Linked DNA regions of Homo sapiens. The protein of the gene in region 1 purifies or fractionates together with the protein of each later gene. This does not show direct contact. Each region holds a gene or a part of one and is shown on either strand. Other genes may lie near its edges.

Evidence for each region. Proteins that work in one complex are often made in the same cells at the same time.
Region 2: the proteins of ZBTB7A (region 1) and SMC3 purify together in Homo sapiens (affinity purification with mass spectrometry, with the first as the bait; one large-scale study listed by BioGRID). This does not show direct contact.

The regions. Positions count from the first base shown.
Region 1 is NC_000019.10:4,053,400-4,056,899, forward strand, and holds part of ZBTB7A (zinc finger and BTB domain-containing protein 7A), read right to left. Parts: intron 2,123-3,500; exon of another isoform or gene 2,110-2,122; coding exon of another isoform or gene 1,975-2,109; intron 1,849-1,974; coding exon of another isoform or gene 1,834-1,848; coding exon 572-1,833; intron 1-571. UniProt on the Homo sapiens protein: Transcription factor that represses the transcription of a wide range of genes involved in cell proliferation and differentiation.
Region 2 is NC_000010.11:110,574,195-110,577,694, reverse strand, and holds part of SMC3 (structural maintenance of chromosomes protein 3), read right to left. Parts: intron 2,360-3,500; coding exon 2,292-2,359; intron 1,336-2,291; exon of another isoform or gene 1,234-1,335; intron 275-1,233; coding exon 203-274; intron 1-202. UniProt on the Homo sapiens protein: Central component of cohesin, a complex required for chromosome cohesion during the cell cycle. The cohesin complex may form a large proteinaceous ring within which sister chromatids can be trapped.

The sequences.
Region 1 (3,500 bases):
CATGTTTGCATGCATGTGCATGTATGTGTGCGCATGTACGTGTCTGTGTGCATGTGCCTGCATGCATGTCTGGGGGTGCGTGTGCATCTGTGTGCGTGCCTGGGTGTGCGTGTGTGCGTGCGTGCGTGCGTGCATGTGTATGTGATGTGTATGTGGTGTGCGTGTGTGTGCGCGCATGTCGGTGTGCGTGTGTGTGCGTGCATGTGTATGTGATGTGTATGTGGTGTGCATCTGTGTCTGCATGTGTCTGTGTAGCATGTCTGTATGTGTATGTGGTGTGCGTGTGCGTGTGTGCGTCTGTGTGTGTGCATGTGTACGTGGCATACGCGTCTGTGCATGTGTGTGCATGTGCGTATATATGTGCAAGTGCGTGTATGTGTGTCTGCGTGTGTGTGGATGTGTAGGTGACGTGCATGTGTCTGTGCGTGTACGTGTCTGTGTGCACGTGCGTGTATGTGTGCGTCTGCGTGCATGTGTGCGTGCGGTGCAGGGAGAGAGGCGGGAGGGGTCGTGAGCGGCGGATGCTGGGGCAGAGAGCAGGACGGCGCCTCCCCCGCGGCGGGCAGCTCACCTGGTGAAGCGGACCTTGCAGATGTTGCACTCGTAGGGCTTCTCGCCCGTGTGGGTGCGGATGTGTCGCGGCAGCTTGCCGGCGCCCTGGATGACCTTCTCGCAGATGGGGCACTTCTGGAAGGCCTTGGCTCGGATCTTCTTCTCCACCTTCTGCGACCAGGCCGGGTAGACGTCGCCGTCGTGGGCGCCGCTGAAGTACTTCAGGTAGTAGTCCATGACGCCCTTGTCGTCGGCCCGCGACTCCTCGTCGCTGTCCCCCGCCGCGGCCCCCGCCCGGCCCACCGATGACATCATCTGCTGCAGCAGCGTGCTGGCCGCCAGCCCGTCCACGTCGGGCCCGTCCCCGTCCTCGCCCTCGGCCGCTCCCGACAGGAAGCCCGGAGAGTCGCCCGGCTCGGGGGCCGCCTCCGACAGCGAGGCGGCCTCCTCCTCTCCGCCGCGGCCGTAGTGGCCGTTCTGCGTGGCGGCCGGCGGGGCCACCGGCGGCGGAAAGAGACCCCCGGTGGGGGCGTCCTCATCCCGCTCTGGCCACAGACCCGGGTTGCTGTCGCCCTCGTCCCCGTCCCCCGTCGGGGGCCGCTCGGCCGGGGGGCCCGGCCCATAGAAGTCTAAGCCGTTGCAGTCGCCCGCGGCCACGGCGGCCACAGCGGCGGCCACGGCCTCCTTGGTGGCATCCAGGTCATCATCGGACGCCCCAAAGGCGGACCACGGGAAGCTGGCAGCGGCGGCGGCGGCCGCGGGGGGCAGGCTGTTCATGGGGTTGCTCTGGAAGAACTCGAGGTACTCCTTGGCGCGGAGGAGGTTGCGCTGATCAATTTGATCTACAAGGTCCAGCTGCCCGGCGTCGGCGCCCGCGTCGGCCGCCAGGATCTGCCGGTCCAGGAGGTCGGCGCACACGTGGCTCACGGCGGGGATCTCCAGCAGGCGGGCGGCGCTGAGGATGTCACCCACGTTGGCTGTGCTGACGGTGAGCGTGGCCGTGTAGGCGAAGTCCATGAGCGCGGTGAGCGCCTCGGCGCTGACGAAGTCGATCTCGTACACGTTCTGCTGGTCCACCACGGCGCCCGACGTGAACAGCTTCTTGAAGTACTGGCTGCAGGCGGCCAGCACCGAGCGGTGCGTGGGGAACTCGCGGCCCTCCACCAGGATCACCACGTCGCACAGCAGGCCCTGCGTCCGCTGCTCGTTCAGCCCACTCAGGATGTCGCTGCTGTGGTCGGGGAACGGGATCCCGATGGGGCCGTCCACGCCGCCGGCCATCTTCCGCGCCGAGACCTGCAGCAGTGGGGAAGGAGAGGGCGCTCGTGAGTGGGGGTGCGGGGGTTCCTGTGCCCACTGACAAGGGCCCGAGGCCCTTGAGAAGCAGCGTTCCACCCTGCTCCCCCAGCCTCACATTCCCACCTGCACGTGAAGGCGGTCAGATGTCGCGCCTTTCCAGCCCCAGCTTCCCCAGCTGTGCACCAAAGCGATACATGCCCTGCCTCCAGCCTCTTTTCTTTTTTGTGTGTCTTTAATACAGAGACAGGCTATCACCATGTTGGCCAGGCTGGTCTCAAACCCCTGGCCTCGGCCTGGCGCGGTGGCTCACGCCTGTAATCCCAGCACTTTGGGAGGCCGAGACAGGCAGATCATGAGGTCAGGGGATGGAGACCATCCTGGCTAACACAGTGAAACCCCGTCTCTACTAAAAAATACAAAAAATTAGCCGGGCGTGTTGGCGGGGGCCTGTAGTTCCAGCTACTCGGGAGGCTGAGGCAGGAGAATGGCATGAACCCAGGAGGCAGAGCTTGCAGTGAGCTGAGATCACGCCACTGCACTCCAGCCTGGGCAACAGAGCAAGACTCCATCTCAAAAAAACAAAACAAATCAAAAAACCCTGGCCTCAAATGATCCAACCGCCCCTGCCTCCCAAGGTGCTAAGATTACAGGCATGAACCACGGCACCCGGCCAAGACTGTTTTCCATCTGTGCATGAGGATAGCCAGATGTCCCGGCTCCCCAGCCTCAGTTTCCCCAGCTGTTCCCAAGTGCAGTCAAATGTCCTATCCTCTAGCCTCAGTTTCCCCAGCTGTGCATGAGAATGGTCAGATGTCCTGCCTCCCCCAGCCTGTTTCCCCAGCTGTACACAAAAGCAATCAGACGTCATGTCCCCAGCCTCAGTTTCCCCAGCTGTACAGGAAGGCAATCAGGTGTCCCACTCCCAACCTGTTTCCCATCTGTACACAAGGGCGGCCAGCTGTCCTGCCCCCAGCCTCAATTTCCCCAGCTGTGCATGAGGACAGTCAGGTTTCCTGCCCCCCATCAGCCTCAGTTTCCCTAGCTGTGCCCAAGAGCAGTCAGATGCCCTGTTCTGTCTCATCAGCGTGAGATGAGGCTGGCAAAACCCACACTGGACGCTTAAATTTCACAAGCACACTGGCACCACCCCTCCGAGGAGGGCCCCCGGGAATGCCTGTTGAAAGGGCACTTTGAGGCCCGGCTCGGTGCTCACGCCTGTAATTCTAGCATTTTGGGGAGGCTGAGGTGGGCAGATCACTTGAGGTCAGGAGTTCAAGACCAGCGACCAGCCTGGCCAACATGGTGAAACCCTGTCTCTACTAAAAATACAAAAATTAGGCTGGGTGTGGTGGCTCACACCTGTAATCCCAGCACTTTGGGAGGCCGAGGCGGGCAGATCACCAGGTCAGGAGATCGAGACCATCCTGGCTGACACAGTGAAACTCTGTCTCTACTAAAAATACAAAAATAGATGGGCGTGATGGCACGTGCCTGTAATCCCAGCTACTCGGGAGGCTGAGGCGGGAGAATCGCTTGAACCTGGGGGGTGGAGGTTGCAGTGAGCCGAGATTGCACCACTGCACTCCTGCCTGGGCCACAGAGCGAGACTCCGTCTTAAAAAAAAAAATCAGCCAGGCGTGGTGGCGCGT
Region 2 (3,500 bases), on another chromosome or scaffold:
CAATACTCTTAACCAAGACACTTTTCACAACAGTTTGTACATTCCCATTTGTTAACAGAGTATTCATTGTCATTTTAAGATAAAATCAGTATATAAACTGTAATTATAACAAATTATAAAAGCTTAAAAAGTTTCAAAGTATGAAGAAAATCAGCTAAACCAATTAAATTCTCAACATTACTTTAAAAAAAAAGTTACTTACTGGTAACCGGTTGTCTGAATTATCAAAAATAATCTCCACAAAAGCAGAAATAACACGAGGACCAGTACCTTCCTAAAAATGAAAGAAGTGAGAAATTTGCCATTTAAGTTGTATATTCATATCCTTTAAAGGATTCTTAAAGTCTAGGGCATAATAACAAGTCTGATTCAATGGAGAAAAATTTCTGCTAGATTCATATATACACACACACACTAATCTAACGTCTCTGCTCTTTTGGCAAGAGGGATACATACTTTGGGGATATCCCCAGAGTTATAGTATATATCCCTCTTGCCAAAACAGCAGAGACGTTAGATTAGGACAACAAAACTTCTCAACCAAATAGCTTTTGATTCTAAATAAAAAATAAGAGCTATGCAAGACATGTCAAAGTTAGATATCCTTAAATATGATTCTACAGACCACTTTATTAGACTGCAAGACTGGGGACATTTAACTCTACCTATTTGCTAATATCTAATACACCATGAGGCTTTTCTCTTACAGTCTCATTTTAATGCTGCAAAGAAATCCTAATAAATCATGGGATAATTACCAAAAGTCTGTTTTTTAAGAAAAATTGAGACATTCTACAGTTTTAAATCTATTATAGAAATATACACATTTAACATGTGTCACATTTAAACCAATCTATGACACAAAAACTATGGTACCAAGTCCAGATACCTTCCAGATTATAGAAACTATGTAGTAAATACAATGAAGAACTGTACCAAAGAGGTTATTAATTATTTTAATGCCAATCTGAAAAACCTAAAAAGAATTTTTCTAAAGGAAATCAATTCTGATTACTGGGCTACAAATTCAAACTAAACAAGGGGAAAAGACAGACAAGAGCTAAACAAAACAATTTCCTATGTGTGAGAAACACTGTTAAGACATGTTGAGGAATTTCATTTTCTAGTCTTTAATAAACAATATTCAAATCAGAAGGATTAATCGTTTTATTGTAGTCTTTCATGATTTTCTATCCTAAAATTACTTTAGTCCATTACTCATATTTTTTTCCACATCACATTGGTAATGTGCCAATGTCCTAACAAGGTTTGAGGGAGGCATGACTCACATGAACACGAAAACCCAATCATCGTGCTTATGCATTACAAAAGGACCCACTTAATAAAATATCCTAACTCACATTACTGTAAATATACAGGTGGTCCCCAACTTACGATGGTTCAACAAATGGCTGAATGACAACGTGATAGCAGTCTACATTCAGTAGAAACCATAATTTGAGTATCCATAAAATCACTGTTTTTTACTTTCAGCATAGTATTCAATAAATTATATGACAGATTCAACACTTTATTATAAAACAGACTTTTGTGTTAGATCATTTTGCTCAACTGTAGGCTAATGTCCATTTTTGACTTATGGTATTTTCAGTTTATGATAGGTTTATTAGGACATAACCCCGCTGTAAGTTGCAGAACATCTCTACTGTTTTTCATACTGGAAAATGATGTTTACTATCTAAGTACAAATATGGCTAAAACAACAAACAACTTGTATGTTGTTTAGTTTGCAATGGTTGTTTCTCTATGTTCCCAATTAATTTTTGGTTCTGCATCTTAAAGTTCCTAATCTGCAACCTCAAACTCTTCTTTCTCCTCAGCAAACCTGCTTCTTAAGCCTTTGCAGATCACATCCTTAAAGAAATGTACATGGAGGACATACCCACCTATAGGCAAATCCTATAATTTTCTCCTAACCATCACATAAAAATTAGGCCTTTATCTGGCATTAACATGTTAGGCTAAATTTCACAGCAGAATAAAACACTTATGATATATATCATGTCTCCTTTAAGACATTTATATGGAGGACATATCCATCTATAGGCAAATCCTATAATTTTCTCCTAAACCACTGTATAAAAATTGGGCTTTTATCTGGCATTAATATGTTAGGCTAAATTTCACAGCAGAGTAACACACTTATGAGAAAGATTGTGTCTTGTTCACAAAGAATCTGAAACTTGAACAAATGCTTTTTTAACCAGCATGGAAAATTTATTTTTAAAATATATGTAATATCAATAATGTCTTAAAGCAGTCTCACTCACATGCAATAAAGCCAACCGCTGTTCTGGACGAAGATGACTAAACTCATCACTGAGAACAAACTGAATTGCTGGAAATACAAAAACAACTATTAGTATACCCTAAAAAAGTGTTTATAACTTATTTATAACTTCCCACACCTCAATAGAACATAGTGTGTCTGGTAATAGACAATGCAAATAAATTATCTGTTTCATATGGACAAAAGGAAATGCAGAAAATGTGCCTGCACATCAGACTAATCAGGTAGGAAATGATATAAGAAAAATACTGAGAAGTTTTCATTGAAACATTTAAGGTAAGGAAATAAAGAGAAACCACCGAAATACATGAAAACAGACAAGCAAAACTAAGGTATACCTCTGGCTCAAAGTGTTCACTGACTGGATTAGGTTAACACTGTATTTGCTTTTTTCCCCACTAGACATAAATGATATGAGTTAAAATCCTTTTTAACAAAATAGGATGTATTTTGAGAATATGCTTAAGTGGATACTTTACCAAAAGAAATAAAACTAAGGAAATACAGGGAAATGTTTGAGATGCCCAACTTATACTACACTTCTTATACTATACCGAGCTCTGTAAGAAGGGGCCGTTCCTACTTCGGTATAGAGTACCTAACTGGACCACCCTGCCTAGGAAGTGGAACTCTTTACTCAGCTGTTCTTGTCCCAGTCCACCCAAGAGACCTCTGGCACTGTGTGTGTGTGGAGGTGGTGGGGGTGCCCACATCAGCAAGTACGTGCATAAGCATTAATGTGTGTGCTGTGGACACAGGTCGAGGTGAGGAGACTTCACACTGCCCTGGAGATTCTGAAATACTTCCACTTCAGTCCATTCTCTCATCATTGCCAAATTACAACCACAATAGGATATACAGGCTAGAGAGTGCCTTTCAGATTCGTGTGCACAGAAGAGATAGAACCTTTGTTCTTACTAAGCCAGTCCACTAAATGCCCCTTTCCCTCAAGCATTACCCAACTAAAAAGTTCAAATTTTTCAACCTACTCCTTAACTGTCTAATTTTGTTAAAATGTTTTTCTCCTCAAAGGATTTGTTAACAGACGCATTGCTATTTACACTTAAATGCAATTTAGAGAGAATTTTTGAAGCTCTATTTACTATCTTCAAAGTGACAACAGTCTGTTCAGTTTCAAGTTTTTTATACCTCTTCATCCTTTACAAAGATGATTGGTTTAGAAAACGTT